Linked DNA regions of Homo sapiens: region 2 is linked to region 1. Evidence: fine-mapped expression QTL. Tissue or cell type: monocytes after R848. Region 1 holds a variant in brackets; the other region holds the start of a gene. All regions are shown on one strand. Distances are from middle to middle.

Region 1 (8,341 bases):
TTTTGTTCCATAGTGCTTCACGGCAGAGCAGAAAAATCTCAAATATTCTGAGGAAAAAAAACAAGGTTTTTCATAACCTCAAATATTCTCTTACAAAAGGAGAACAAGAATTTTTTTTCCTTTCTGTTATTTTAACAGATTTGACAGTTCAATTGATGAAAAAATAAACTAGGTGCAGTTTAAACTGAAAATATCTGAAGCACATGCCCCCTCCAAATAAAAAACTTGTAATAAAAATGCCAAATGATAGCTCAATTGACCTTTCAAAAGATTTTGAAATTGTGGGTGTTACCTAGCACTTTCAGAGCATTTTCTGTACTAATTTTATGATATATAAGGTTTTAGTCAATCCTCAGACTGAAATGAAGTACTCTAATAGTCATTATAAAACTTATTTTCTTAGAATCATGAGTTCAACAAAGACGGAAATAATTTATATGCTATAATACTGCATATTTCAGTTACTTAAAAAAAGAAAATAAAAATGAGTTATCATAGAATTATAAATCCAGGATATTCCGTACCTTAGATTTCAGCTAGTTCAACTCACTCCCAGGTAGTTCATGGCAGAGGAGGAACCCCAAAGGAAAAACCATGATTCCTGGGCCAGAGTTTTTTCTTTGCACCCTTACCTCCTTGGTGTAAAACGCTGCGCGCATGCAAGTGCACACACACACACACACACACACACACACACACACACCATTAGTAAAAGAAGCTGTGAATCAGTCTCAGATCTTTGAAAAAACTTAATGGTTTTTAAGACTGAACTGCTGTCCATTGAATGTTCTCAAATACTTATCTAGTCTTCGCTTAGAAGTAAACTAGATTCATAATTCGATGCAACACTATCATTTTTCATGAAAAATATCAATTTTCTTAATGCATAAAGGTTTAAACTCATTGTTTTATGGTGACCATACATTTAAAAAGATCTCAAAAATCAAACAAACAAAAAACAGTTAATAAGAGAAAAAATATATGAAAAGTATGCTGTCAGAATATAAATTTGTTTTTAATATAAAATGAATGGAGCAAGTTATCATAAATGTACCAAGAACCAGGCATACTTAAACATATATTGACACCCATGTATACAGTAAATAAGTGTTAATGAAAAGCAGCCAATTATACTCAAAAGATCACAAATCACAAAGGTGATGAGCTTCAAAAAGAAGCCAGTGAACCACTAAGAACCAAGGATTAAGATTGCTCTCAATTATTTACTGTGTTTTGGCAAAAACAAATTTCCCTTCAGTTGGCAGAACACAGAATTTTAAGAGCAACCTTCAGGGAAACATGCTCCAGGGACTTAAAATACATCCTGGCCTGTCCTACATGAAAATAGCATATTGTAATCAAAAGGAAAAAAGAACAGAATAATGAGACCATATGTCTGCTGGCTCTTTATCTTACTGCTCATATTCTAACGGGTGTGAATAACTTATTAGATTGCCAGTGAGCTGGAAGTCTGAAAGATAAATGTGGCCCAAGAATCCCCTCATCTGCTTACCTATAAATTCTCAAAGTGTGAAGAAAGTTAATCTTTTTAAAATAATCCCTAAAAGACTGTTCTGTGTCTGAATCATTATTTAATGACACCAACACCCTGTCATATCGAATATGGAAATAGCCAAAGCTCTGTAATTCATCAGAGAAAAGAAACCTAAAAACACATTCCAACTGATTACATTATTTATAAAGGTAAAACTTTCTTAGATACTGACAATTATTTTAAAAGATAGCAGCAGCCATGCAGAGCCAATTGCTCTAAATGCTTTCCAATGGGGTACTGGCTCTTTCATTTACATTACACATATCTTTCTTAAATTCTAGAAAATTCTCTGCCATGTTTTTCTTTGAAAATTACCTCTTCCCATTTCCCTCTTTTTTTCTTCTTCTGAAATTCCTATTGGGTTATTGAATAATTTTCATTTTACCCTTCATATGTCAACTTCTCTTTCATATTTTCCAGTGCTGTCTCTATGTGCTACATGCAACCTAACTTCCTCTAGTCGTCCTTCTGTTCACAAATTCTTCATTCAGTCCTGTCTAATCACACTTCAGCCCACCCTTGAGGTTTGGGGGGTTTTAATTTGAGAGACTATATTTTTCATTACTAGAAGTTCTGTTTATCCTTTTCAAATCTGCCTGGACTTTTGTAATTCCAATTAACTGAAGTTCTTGGGATCCAGTCCTGCTGCTTGTTATGCCTACTGACTTCACTCCTAAAAGACTTCTTCCACATACGTTATTAAATGTGGGATTGTGACTTTTGGTGAGACTTTATCTGCAAATTCTGTATGGTTTGGATTAGAAGCTGTATTCTTCCAGAATAATGGCTTCTACCAGGTAACCCAGGGAGGCGATCAGCCCAGGACAACTTCACTTCTATCTGTGGGTTCCCAGAAAATGCAAGTTCTATAAATTTGACCCTCAGGAGGACTCTTTAGGGGAGTAGGCATTCTTATTCCATATAGATTCAAAATCATTTTGCCTGTTATCACATGGCATTAAATTCCATCCACATGCTGATGACTCTCAAATTTCTGTCTCCAAGTCAGACTTCACTCCTGAACTTCAACTCCTATAATCAGTTATCTATTGAACACCTTCCCTTGAATGCCTCATATGCATTTCAAATCTTACCATATTCAAATTTTAATCTGATTCTTGATTTCCCTTCCTTGCTCCTTCCACCCACCCCGCCACCAAAAAAAAAAAAAAAAGTCAGCAACTCCAGCCTTCCAGCTCAGCCCTAGTGGTGCACATGGCCTCAACTCCCATTCACCACTCCAGATGTGGGGACACTTGGTGATTTCCTTTCTCTGCATTCCAGCACCACTTAACATTGAAAAGATTTACTTATAATATTATATCCGATAGAGAGCAGATGCTTTACCCCATCTGTTTAGATTATCACATTGATTAGGAGTTCTCAGTGTTGGCTTTTCAAATGAGAGCAGGAAAAGGAGGCTACTTTAAATTGCCTACAGTTATCTCCTCATACCAGGTTACTCTTAGGGTCTGTTCCTTTCAACGCAATGCTACTAATAGGGCTCAGAAAAGTATGTAGAAACCACTTCCTGCCCAGGCACAGTGGCTCACGCCTATAATCCCGGCACTTTGGGAGGCCAAGGTGGGCAGATCACTTGAGGTCAGAAATTCGAGACCAGCCAACATGGTGAAACCTTGTCTCTACTAAAAACATAAAAATTAGCTGGGCATGGTGGTGCTCGCCTGTAGTCCCAGCTACTTGGGAGGCTGAGGCACAAGACTCACGTGAACCTGGGAGGTGGAGGTTGCAGTGAGCAAGATCGGGCCACTGCACTACAGCCTGGGTGACAGAGTGAGACTCTGTCTCA[G/A]AAAAAAAAAAAAAAAAAAAAAAGAAAAGAAAAGAAACCACTTCCTATTAAGAAACCATGAATGTGGATCTATTTTGGCTTTAGGATAAGGACCCTCACAGACTGATAAACTGCAGATTGGCATTCAAGATCCTTCCAATAATCTATCTGATCTTACAGCCATTATGTCCCCAATGCAGCCAGACCTACCTGCTGTTGCAAAAGTATGTCTCAGTGACATCTTTCTTCCAAGAGTTTACCCATGTTTTTCTAGCTGGAATGTCCTTCTCATTATTTTTAAAAAGCCCATTTATTCTACAAGGACCAGTTCAAATACTACCTCATCTGCAAAGCCTTCTTGGATCCCTGTCATGTACCCTGCTTTTGGCTTACTTTCCCCTCTGCCATTACCTTTACTAACTGACCACTTACAGCACTGCAGTTCTATTCCAATTACGATGTTAGTCATTATGGGAAGCACAAACATGAACAAACTCAGACATATTCCCCACTGAGGAACAGAATTAAGTAATATGCCCAAACAGACTTGGTTGGGTCTATCAAGGACCAGTAATGTTCATTTGGATAACCTCACTGCACCATACCTCCTAACCTCCATAGTGGCTCAACCCACAGCAATTTTTCTTGCCTTTCCTTACACCCCAGACTCCCTCAAAGAAGTGAGGCCTTGCTTGTCCCAAACTCCCCAGCTCATTTGGCTAGTGTTCTCAAGTAAATACTTGTTAGCCCTCTTCCTGATCCCCACATCTGTCATTAGTGGCAAAAGTGATGCTATGAAAGGCTAGACCTTCTAGAATCACAACACAGCTCTTCCAGACTCTGGTGTCCTGCCCACTGCCTAAACTCTTTTGATACTATTTTACAAGCACTAGACTGGACCACTCAATACCAACATTTGTATGAGTGACATCTGTGCCTACTAAATCACATTAGGATACCCTGGAAGTCCTTGCCAGGGCTAGTCTCTGGAATTAGACAAGTCCTCCCCAGACCATGTTATTCATTCTCTACTTGCACTTCCCTTCTTTCTTTCCCTTTTTAACACTTGATTCACCATTGCTCCAGATGACGCATAATAATGGCTGTGGGGGACTCATTCAGTCACCTCTAATTTCTCTATTTTTCTGTCTAACAATCCCTAATAGGTACTGTAGACTCATCCTCTTTCCTCCACAATAGTTTAACCTGATACAGAATGAATCAAGCACAGAGAAAGACAGCTACATAGGGTGCTAAAAGAGGTTATCCAGTGGCCAATACCTGGAGGGGAGACTCTACCACCACACATGGCAAAGGAAAAAGGGGAAAAGAAAAGGAAAAGAAAGTAGCTGCCAGAAAAACAAAAAGCCCAGCTTCCTTCACATTAACTGTTCCTCTATCCTTCTGTATAAGCACTGTAACATACTCACCTCTTTTATTCATAGTCTTTATTTTCTAAGCACCATATTAGGTACTTAAAATCTGGCAAAATGGTTGCCAGAAACAGTGACATAATACAGCTTTATAGATGGTATTGTATCAAATATTCTCTTAATAATATCAACATTCCAATTCATCTGGTACTAGTTTCTCATCTCAAATTATATCCTGAAAGCACTATGCACAACCTTTAAAAAATATATTAAAAAAATTTATATATAAAAAATAAATTTTGAATTATACAAAAGTGGTAAGGAAAGGCAATGAAGCCACATATACCTTTTACCTCACTTATACAACTGCCAAGTGATTCATGACCGATCTTGTTTCAGTTATACCCCTCCCTACCCTCTCAACCTCAACCAGGGTTATTCTGAAGCTAATCCCAGAGATACTGTCATTTTATTCGTAAGTATTTCATCTCACATCTCTTATAGGTGAGATTTTTTTTTTTTAATAATCAAAATATAACCAAAATATTATTAAACCTTTAAAATTAATAATTCCTATGCTGGGTGCGGTGGCTTATGCCTGTAATCCTAGCACTTTGGGAGGTCGAGGCAGGAGAATCACTTGAGCCCAGGAGTTCAAAACCAGCGTGGGCAACACAGGGAGACCCTGTCTCTAAAAAAATACAAAAAACTAACCAGGCATGGTGGCGCATGCCTGTGGTCCCAGCTACTCAAGAGGCTTAGGTGGGAGAATCACCCTGAGCCCAGGAGGCTGAGGCTGTAGTGAGCAGAGATCGCGCCATTATACTCCAGGCTGGGCAACAGAGTGAGACCATGTCTCAAAAAAAAAAAAAAAAAAAAAAAATCCATAATATCATTAAATATCCAGCCAGTTTTCAAATGTCCGCATGTGTTTTGTTTGCTTGAATCATAATTAAAATTAGGTCCATACATTGGCACTGGTCTCAAATCTCTTGTATGCTATAGGTTCCCCCACCTTCCTCCCCCGGGCTCTTCCCTACCACCCTGAAATTTATTGGTTGAAGAAACTGGCATACAGAATTCCTCAGTCTAGCTTTTGCTGATATACTTCTCATGGTGTCATTGAACACGTTATATTTTCCCCTGTATTTCCTGGAAAATGATAGAGCTACAGGCTTGAACATATTTGGTTCAATTTTCTGGCAAGACTACTTCACAGTGGGAAACATGTAATATCTGGTTATCTCTCTTTTTGTGATGTTAGCAGCTATTAATGATCACTGGCTATACTATTTTACCAGAGATTGCAAAATGGCAATACAGTGATGTTCTATGATTCTTCTATCTTTTAACAACTGTGATATGCTAATAATGAGAAACTTCTCATCAATTACTTGGTTACTCAGAGCTACGGTTCATATAGCAGAAGAGGTAGAGAAAAATGCTTGAGTCTTTCCATTTATTACGTTTTCAAAATGAGTTAATTTCTTAGCACCCTCTAAAGCTAACCAATTATTATTAATTTTTTTTCTTTAGTATTACTGTGAACTTAGGATTCAAATATATTTAATGTATTGAAATATATTAAATATATTATCCTTATTATCCTTAGTGATCCTCAAACTATCTCATCTCTGGCTCCTGAGTCCTTTAAGATGCCCTCAGGAGTTTCTGACAGCTTCCTTGCTTTCTGAACTGACAAGATATTAAAAGCTCATCTGCACATCTCCTGCCCTAGGCCTGCAAGTAGCTACTCTCCAAGGAGCCTTCATTTACTTTAGTGGGAACTGATATTTAGAGACAGTCTGGGTTCTAGGGGTGCTTACTGCGACTGGATTGGTCCTTGTTTCCAGGCATTGCCAGGGGAAAGAGCTAGAAAATTTACCATCACAGGGTCGTTCCTAACCTTAGAAACTTTTACCTGTTTCTCCTTTAAACTACACTAAAAGTCCAAGTTTCCAATGATATTATCTTAACCAGTCATTTGCTTTATCCCATAAAATACACACAAAAGCCTTAGAATAACAATACCAACATAACAAGCATAATACGATTACTCTAACAGTTGAGGATTATACTTTTGGAGACGCTTTATCCTTCAGTTATAATCTATTAGGGCCATATAATCAAACATCTGACATTTGAAATAGTGCCTCTCTGTATGGTTATGTAAGCAAATTGAGAGAGAGAAAAAGAGAGAGAAAAAAATGAATTAGAATCACCTGTCTCGTTTCAATCTTTAGGGCTCTTTTACACTTTAATTTTGTTTTAAAATTGTGCAAGATATGTATATTGTCCCAAAGTCAAAGAGACAAAACAAGATATATTCAGAAGTCCAGCTTCCAGTTTCTCCCCCACACGGTTCCCTCCATTACTCTGTAGATAACCAACTATTGTTGTTTTTAAAGTTTTATTTTATCCTTTCTAATTTCTTAAATATTAGCACTGCCACCTCTTTCTTTGATAAATGATATATACTATACTCACTTGTCTGTACCTTGCTTTTTTTCAATGAAGATCACCCCATAGCAGTATAAAGAGATATTCCTCATTCCTTTTTACAGGTGTAGATACAGTAAAAGTTATTCAACAAATCCTGTACTAACCAACATTTGGATTGTTTCTACCTTTTGCTATTTCAAACAGTGCTGTGATAAACAGCCTAGTGTGTGTTTGTGTCTATTCTTATTTTTGCTGGTGTAACACTGAGACAAATCCCTCGAAGTAGAGCTGCTGGGCCAAAGGGTAAACATAAATGTAATTTTTCTAAATAGTGCCAAATTCTCTTCCCTAGTATTTACACCATTTAGCATTTCCTCCAGCAATGTCTGAGAGTCCTGCTTCTTCCCTTCCCTCCACAGCATCATCAAGAGAACAGCTTGTCGAACTTTTTAAGTACTGTCAATATAATCAGTAAGAAATGACATTTCAGTAAAGTGTCTGCGTATTTCTTACCAGTTGAAAGGTTAGGCGTCTTTTTCTACGTGTAAGAGTCATTTGCAATTATTTTTCTGTAAACTATCTGTTCATGTATCGCCCACTTTCTTGTTGAGTTGACAGTCTTATCGATTTTTTAGGGATATTAACCCTTTGTGATAGAAATCGCAAATACTCTTGTCCAATTTGTCACTTCTTTTTTTACTTAACTTGTATTTTTAGCCATATAAAAGTTAGTACTTTTACCATCAAATTTTATTTCCCATATTATAATCTGGATTTTGAGTTATAGTTAGGGTGTTTATTCCACTTCCGGGTTCAGAGGAATTCAAGACTTGCATAGTTTCATTTTTATACATTAAGTGTATAATTCATTTGTAATTTATCCTTCACATAACATAAAGAATAAATCTAATATTGTCTTCCTTTATTATATACTTAAATTCCATGTGCAACTGCATCTATTTCTTTATTCTCTACTCAGCTGCACTGGTCTGTCTTTTAAGCACCAATCCCAGAGTTTTAATTAGAAATGCTTAATACTATATTTCAATAATTAGCAGGGCTACAACCCTCCTCCGCTGATCTGCTTTTGAGGGTTTTCCTTATATTCTACTTATTTGTTCTTTTCAATAAAATTTATGATGAACTTGCCTACCTCCCAGAACACACACACACACACACACA
Region 2 (8,341 bases), 19 kb after region 1:
GCTTTCTCCCATTTTTCTTGGTCTTTTGTCTTCTGCCTTCCGTAGAGATAAGAGTACAAGAAAAAAAAATGACAACTAGAGGTGATGCAAATACCAAGGGACATTCAGCCTTGCTAAGATGTAATACAGAGTAGGCGGCATAGTGACAAAGTAGGAAGCAATTTCCTACCTAAAAAGAACAATCATTACTCAGTGTTAGATAATTGTCACCACATAGGATTTAACTATCAATTTTAAAGAGAGAACAAAAATCTAGATTTCTCTGTAAAGTCTCCTGATTTTAAAATTTTGCCATAAGTTTTTCTGCTAAAACAATGTGGGTCAGTTCCCTGGCTGCCAACTTGGAATCCTACTGTAGGCTCTAGTGTTCTTTTATAACTTCCTAGATTACTAGCTTCCTTAGATATGTTTATTGAACATCTATAATATGTATTGCCTATAATTATATACTAGGCAAATCGCCACCAAGATTGAACCTCAGTTACTTTTCTATTCACAGGTTATTTTAAATTCAACATGTTATTCTTCAGAGACAACTTAAAACCAATACTATTAATTAACATCTTACCAATTATATTCCAAATCATGCTACCTACTCTGAAAGGACCACAATTTAAACTCTCTGAAGTTAACTGTCTAGAGTAGGTTGAAAAACTGTTTACAGATGCTGTGTCAATTATATAATGATCACTCTGGTCTCTGGGTCTTTGTTTCTGCTGTTCCTTCAGCCTGTAAGGGCTGTCACCTCTTCCTCTAAGAAGCTGCCTTATATATTATTTCCTGATCATTTCAAACTTACCCCCTCTGAGCTTACTGTATACACTATTGAAATCATACCTTTATTGTTTATGTCCCCAAAGAGACTACAAATACCTTAAGGATCAGCCCTATATAGAATTTTGGATTGCATGTCCAGGAGCTAAGTATGATTAAATGTGCCATGTGGCAAATACTGAGAATCTGTTTGATTCAGCTGGCCACTACTTCCCAAGCAGGGTACCATGTGCCTGGCACCTAATAGATGCTAATTTCTTCACTCATTCTTCAATAATGTAAGTGGTAAAAAAGATAGTCTCTGCATTCTCAATAAATCTGTTGAGAGAATGATACAAATTAAAGATTTGTTAAACAAATTAATATATGTATATAAATATATACATGCACTTCAGTTCATCAACACAGTTACATGTCTTTAGGAGACTCAATTTCTCTAAGCCTTGGTGTTTTTGTCCAACTAAATGCAGATGATGCCAACTTTACTAGGTTATGTGAGAAGTGAATGAGAAATTCTAGAAAGTGCTAAGAAAATGGCATATGTCATAGCTCATAAAAATGCTGCCAGCACCTCTTAAGGAAATTAAAACTCCAAAGGTAGTTCCGACTGACAAATTTTTAAAGATATTTGTGTGAAAGACGAAACAGTTCAATAAATGTACTTAATTTATATAGTTTACAGTAATCCAAATAGTTGTTTAGTTTTATAAAACTACAGTTTCTACCAAGCTCAGAGAAAAAACACCACCGTAAATTCACAGTTTGTAAAACAAATAGTTCAAGGATTGCCACGTGTTTTCGGCATGGCAAAACAAAAATCTGTATGTAGGTGAAAGTCAGAAGCGGATATATTTTGGCTCGGTATTAGGAAAAAAGTCCAACACTTCCAAATACTTAGTATTTCCAAATACTTTCCACAGCTTCACATGCAGAATGCCATGCCTCAAAAGGTTCACGTCCTAATACCCAGAACCTATGAATATGCTGTTACATGGCAAGAGGGAATTAAGGTTAAAGATGGAATTAAGGTTTCTACTCAACCTTGAGATGGGGAAAATATTCAGGATCATCCAGATGAGCCCAATGTAATCACAAGGGTCCTTGTAAGTGGCAGAAGGCAGAGGGGAGTATTAAGAGTGACGTAATGTGATAAAGACTGAACCAGCCATTGCTGACTTTGAAGCCCATGAGTCAAAGAATCTTAGAAACCTCTAGAATCTGGAAAACTTAAGGGAATGGGGTCTCGAGCCTCCAGAAAAGAATGCAGCTCCTACCAATAGCTTGATTTTAGCCTAGTTAGATCCATTTTGGACTTCGGACCTCTAGAACTATGAGATGTGAATTTGTGTTGTTTTAAGCCACTAATTTCTGGTAATTTGTTGCAGCAGCACTAGAAAACTAATTTGGCTTTCCTTGAGATGCCATGCCTTCTTCCTGACAGATGGTATTCAAACTGGGGTAGACAAGTTGTTCATGGTATATGTCTAGGGGATAGGGAATAGGTAAAAAAGCATCATGAGGATGCAGATAAGGATTGCTTGCCTAACTGAGTTTCTAAAGGCATTAAACTGGGCCTATGTATACTTTTTTTTTTTTTTCTCCTGAGACAGGGTCTCACTCTGTCACCCAGGCTAAAGTGCAGCGGCAGGATCATAGCTCAATGAAACGTCTAACTCCTGGGTTCAACGGATCCTCCTGCCTCAGCCCCTGGAGTAGCTGGGATGCCAGCACGCCTGGCTTTTTTTCTTTCTTTTTTTTTTTTTAAGTAGAGACGGGGGTCTCACTTTGTTGCCCGGGCTGGTCTCCAACTCCTGGGCTCTAGCAATCTTCCAGCTTCGCCTCCCAAAGTGCTGGGATTACAGGCGTGAGCCACTACGTGCACATTTTTGTGTGTGACCATTTATGGTACTTCCTCTGTACAGAGAGTCTGTAACATTTTCAAAGATTCTCAAAAGGATCTGCTTGATAAACAAGATTAAGAGCACTCTTCCTAGATTATATCCAATACTAAACTTTTAATATTCCATGATTTTCTAAGGCAGTGAGTCTCAAAGCTCATTCCATTAAATGTCAAAATAAAACATCAAAACTCATCCAACATTTGTAAAATGCAGATTCCTGAGCCCCACACCAGACCAGACCGAATCTCTAGGAGCTGGAAAAAAGTTTAATTTCAACAAACTTGGAGGAGGGAAGAGAAGGAATTCTGCACACACTGTTAAAGCACCTCTGCTCCAAGGAATATGTTATGAAACATTACACCAAAAATGAAATAAATTGTTCCCATTAAGGAACCTTTAGGAACCCCAATACACTCATCTTACCATATGACTTTGTGTGATTTTTTTTTTCTGAGCCTAAGGTAGCTCAGAATATGAAGGCAACGTCTACTAGACCTATTTAAATTAAAATTCATTCTGTAGAGTGCCAGGAACGATGATTGGCAGGTAATACGTCACACTAAAAAACGTCAGTCCTATTCTCCATCCCCGCCTCCCTCCAACCTTCTCCCAAAATAAGGAAAAATAATACCCGGCCTGCCATTTTGCATACTGTTAAATACTGCAAGAATTGTGTTAACTGCATCAATATCATTACTAAACAACAATTTTCTATAATAAATTTTTGGTATGATTTATCTCCTAAATGTTTGCTCTTTCAAGCGAATATTTGCTTGAAACATTCTCCTGGACCTTTGTCTATCGTGATGCCGTAGGAATTTACAAATTTAAGTCTTCCACGAGTCATGGCGTGGGGTAAAACTCGACTGGCCTCAATGAAAACACCTCCTAACAGAGAGAGGCCTAGAGAATAAGTAAGAACTCCCAACAGTGGCTTTTCAATCTCGGCAACCTTGGGCAGCTTTTTCTCGTCCGAGACGTTTGACAACCCTAAAGAAACCTGAGCCTTGATTGGAAAGGGGGCTGAGGGAGGAGAGTTTGGGAACCCTCTCTGCGCCTCACAAATAACCCAAATTCCAAGGCAAGGTCACAAAGCCATACAAACCAGGGGGCCTAGGGCAGAGTCGAGTTCTCTCAGCTGCCAAGAAAGCCCTTCACAGCATGCATTAGGCCAAGTCGGCGGACCCCAACCGGAGAAAGAGGAAAGGGAATAAGGAGCCCGCGCACCTTCACACCCAAAAGCAGGCCCTCAATCATAACTGCCCCTGTCCCAGGCCCATCACTCAGCTACACAGAGAAGCTGAGCGAGCCCCGGCCACTCACCCCGAAGCCACTGCGTGCTGTGAAACCATCTCCAATTAGCTCCGCGGCTTACAGACCACCCAAGAGCCCCCTTCACCAGCCCTACGCTTCGGCGGCCGGGGAAGCCCACAAGATAACGCAGCAGCCGCGGATCACAGCCCAGCCTCCAGGAGGCCGCCATCTTGACGGCCTTCTCACTGGCTGCCCGCAGCACAGCCTGATGTCCAGCATCAAGGCCCCGCCTCCCGCATGGTTGGCCACGCCCCCAGACGCTAGCGGTGCCTTTAGGTCTCTCAGACTTGAACCCCCGCCCCCCAACCCAGCCCCGCCTCCAACCACGTTGGCCTTGCCTCCCGGGAAGTCAGGTGCGCCGCTGGATATCTCAGCCGGCGGGGCCTTACCAGACCCCGGCCCCCGCCCCGTTCGCCCCGCCCCCGGGCTGCCCTCAGCGCCGCCTGATTGCATTTGCGGCCTCGCTGCCGTATCCCAGGCTAAGCGCCGCGCGCAAAGCCGTGCGGAGATTGGAGGCCGCGCGGGTCCCTGGTCTGGGCCATGTCTGGCTGTGATGCTCGGGAGGGAGACTGTTGTTCCCGGAGATGCGGCGCGCAGGTAGGGGCGGGGCCACCGGTGCCCGGTATTCCCAGGAGGAGAGGCCCAGGCGGGACCCGGCGGCTGGAGCTGGGCGCAGGGTAGCGGGCCGGGCGTTTAGCTGCGGGGCGGGGTTTCGGGCCTGGCCGTTCGCTACCCCGGCGCACCGCGACCTTGGCGTTCGGAAGCAAGGCTGCGAGGCCCCAGGAGATCAGTGGTCTCGGGCGGGGCGCTCCGATGGCGGGAGCTGGGCGCCAAACGTTGGAAAGAAGCAAATAACTGAGAGAGGAGAGCGTTTAGGTGACCTCACCGGGTATTTATCAGGAAGGCAGGCCAGAGAAGGAATCGTGAAGCACCGAAGTGGAGCTGGGGCGAAGACCGCGCCCCCCAAGCTTCTTTTCTGCGCCCTGACGACCAGTTAGGCGTTTGGGGGGACGTTTGGCACTCGGGAGACGTTTGCCGAACCGGAGCTGTGCCTCAGCTGCCAGCGCTTTGCCTTTGAGCAGTTGCTCCTTGCCTATCTCCGTTTAGATGAATTGTGGGATGATCATGGGAACGATTCTTCCTTAAGCCGAAGTCAAAGGGAAATCCACCCTCACGCTGCATGTAGTTTTCGGTCATTTACACAAACCAACAGTTTTATGGAGCGCCTTCTACACGCTCAGAGATAGGGATACGTAAGATAAATGGCCCAGGGTCTGGAGAACTAGACGAATAAGCAGTTTCAGCACAATATGATAAACCCCACCTAAGAGGCAGGGAAACCCCTCAAAATTAGTTTCCTTATTCCCCCTATCTTATTCCTCCTATCTATATCTTTCTTAGGGTTGAAAATCCTAATTAAAAAGTAGTAACTCGCGGGAGATTTCATTGCTAAACATTTGTCAACCACTTTCTTGTTTGAATAAGTGACTTCCCCAAATTAGCAAAGACGACTCTGAAAATAGAATGCTGCATAGGCAAGATTGGATGAGAGAGAGAAGATCTTGGAGACAGGACAGGTAACTGGAGATCGTTCCTGGGCAAGTGTGTATGGAGAAGTGTCCGTACCCTCAATCAGTAAATCTTAGTGTAATGTCATCAGAATGAGCATCAAAGAGAGCCTTAAGGGACCCGAGAATAAACTAGGATTCTCAAACCAAACATGGCCCACAGACAGCTTGGTGGACAGGCATGTTTTTTTTTTGCTGCACTCAATGTTCATGAAAAATTTGAGCCAACCTTTTTTTTTTTTTTTTTTTTTTTTTGACACGTTTTGCTCTTGTTGCCCAGGCTGGAGTGCAGTGGCGTGATCTCAGCTCACTGCAACTTCTGCCTCCTTGGTTCAAGCGATTTTCCTGCCTCAGCCTCCCAAGTAGCTGGGATTACAGGCGCATGTCACCACACCCAGTTAATTTTTGTATTTTTAGTAGAGACTGGGTTTCACCATGTTGGCCAGGCTGGTCTCGAACTCGTTATCTCAGGTGATCCACCCCCCTAAGCTGCCCAAAGTGCTGGGATTACAGGTGTAAGCCACCACGCCCTGCCAAGCCAACATTTCAAAATCCAGAATCATTTCAGCTTCTTTTAAAACCTCAGAACACATGGTGACATTGGGCCCTTATTTTTTCATGGGATCTGGATTGCGGTTACTAGTGAACACCACCTTTACAGAGGGTGCTGGCCAGGTTACCACAGCTTCCACTACTCACACTGGATTTGCATATCTAGTTAAATACATGAGCCCCTCTAGATATTTGTATTTGTCTGGTTTTGTACAAATACATAAAAACAGCAATAAGAAAAGTTTTAAGAAGTCATAAAATTTCATTGTAGTTTTAGGGGGTCATGGGCAATGGAAAGAGACAGTCTCTTTGGCCTTAAGGAAGGGGAATGTTCAACTGTAAGTGATTAATTCAACGAATATTTAGTGAGCGCCTACTATGTGCCAGGCATTGTGGATTTATAAGTGCAAGCTGCATCTGGTTCCTTCTCCCCTAGAACATGCTGTACAGTGGAAGAGACAAATTAGCAAAGAGACAAAGATGGTATGACAACATGACATAGTTTGACATATGACGATATGACTTAGATGGGAAAGTTCAAGGTAGTTTAGGAGTATACACTTGAATGGGTTAGAGAATACCTCAGGAAACAGTGAAAGTATCTACTGAGGCCTAAAGGATCAGGAAGACATAACCACATGCAATGAAAGTAAGGATATTCCAAGTAGGGGAAGTAGCATGTACACAATCTCAGGGTTGTCCTTGATTACAGACATGGTGTGTTCCCATATTAAGTTTGGTGTTCTGGAACATAAAGTAGGGGCCAGAGACTTGAGATGAAGCTAAAGAGAAAAGCTAGTGAGAGGTAAAGCCGCTGGGCTTCTGGGTCGGATGGGGACTTGGAGAACTTTTCTGTCTAGCTAAAGGATTGTAAATGCACCAATCGGCGCTCTGTGTCTAGCTAAAGGTTTGTAAACCCACCAATCAGCTCTTTGTAAAATGGACCAATCAGCAGGATGTGGGTGGGGCCAAATAAGGGAATAAAAGCTGGCCACCAGAGCCAGCAGCGGCAACCCCCCTCGGTCACCTTCCAGGCTGTGGAAGCTTTGTTTTTTCGCTCTTCACAATAAATCTTGCTGCTGCTCACTCTATGGGTCCGCACTACCTTTATGAGCTGTAACACTCCCTGCGAAGGTCTGCGGCTTCATTCCTGAAGTCAGCGAGACCATGAACCCACCGGGAGGAACGAACAACCTGCGTGCCACCTTTAAGAGCTGTAACACTCACTGTGAAAGTCTGCAGCTTCACTCCTGAAGTCAGCAAGACCACGAACCCACCAGAAGGAAGAAACTCTGAACATCTGAACGAACAAACTCCGTACACACCATCTTTAAGAACTGTAACACTCACCGCAAGGGTCCGCGGCTTCATTCTTGAAGTCAGTGAGACCAAGAACCCACGGGAAGGAACCAATTCTGGACAAACTAGGACCAGACCTAAAGGGCCTGTTAAGCAAATCTTAGATTTTTAAACTAAGGGCAATGAGATAATCAGCAGGATGACTGAAGAAGGCCTGGGGATTGCTGGCTAGAGTTAAAAAGACCAGAGGCATGGAGACAGACTAGGAAGCCGTGGCAGGCATCCAAGCAAGAGATGCTGTAGGTCTGAGTGAGGGAGTAAAATCAGGAGGTCTTGGTTATTGATTAGATGTGTGTAGTGAGAAAAGAAGTCAAGAATGACTTTTAGGCTTCTGATCTAGTGATTGGGGCCTGGTGGTCCACCAGAAAGAGAATACAGGAGGAAGAAACAGTTTATGATGGGTGTGTTGTGGACATGTTGAGTTTGAGGTACAGCCTCAGCATGTGGTACTATACACTGAGTGTATTTAGCAGGGTTCTCTAGAGGGACAGAACTAATGGAATATATATATAAAGGGAAGTTTATTAAGCATTAACTCACGTGAACCCAAGATCCCGCAATAGGCCGTTTGCAGGCTGAGGAGCGAGGAGAGCCAGTCTGAGTTCCAAAACTGAAGAACTTGGAGTCCAGTGTTCAAGTCGGGAAGCATCCAGCACGGGAGAAAGATGTAGGCTAGGCCAGTCTCCCTTTTCACATTTTTCTGCCTGCTTGTATTCTAGCCATGCTGGCAGCTGATTAGATTGTGCTCATCCAGATTAAGGGTGGGCCTGCCTTTCCCAGCCCACTGACTCAAAATGTTAATCCTCCTTTGGCAGCACCCTCACAGACACACCTAGGATCAATACTTTGTATCCTTCAATCCAGTCAAGTTGA

Direction of the effects. Alleles are on the strand shown, and positions count from the first base shown. SD is a standard deviation of normalised expression in the study named.
For the expression in monocytes after R848 of the gene that starts at base 4,435 in region 2, allele A in region 1 goes with a lower level than allele G (large effect, 1.0 SD a copy in Quach 2016).

The links. PIP is the estimated chance that this variant, and not a neighbour inherited with it, causes the effect.
Region 2: APIP starts here. The variant in region 1 is fine-mapped to the expression of APIP in monocytes after R848 (Quach 2016, PIP 0.95). The same link has a PIP of 0.9 or more in monocytes, monocytes after LPS and monocytes after Pam3CSK4.

The regions. Positions count from the first base shown.
Region 1 is chr11:34,931,831-34,940,171 of GRCh38, reverse strand. The region is part of intron 2 of PDHX (pyruvate dehydrogenase complex component X); the gene reads right to left. Among named protein-coding and RNA genes, the nearest start is that of MIR1343, 5.8 kb to the left of the region's middle. The variant G/A (reference allele first, on the strand shown) is at 3,366.
Region 2 is chr11:34,912,473-34,920,813 of GRCh38, reverse strand. APIP (APAF1 interacting protein) reads left to right here and starts at 4,435. Exons shown (of 7, transcript NM_015957.4): 1 at 4,435-4,586. The coding sequence starts at 4,530. PDHX (pyruvate dehydrogenase complex component X) reads right to left here and starts at 4,196. Exons shown (of 11, transcript NM_003477.3): 1 at 3,999-4,196. The coding sequence starts at 4,158. RefSeq lists an enhancer at 3,895-4,194 and silencers at 4,365-4,414, 4,435-4,774.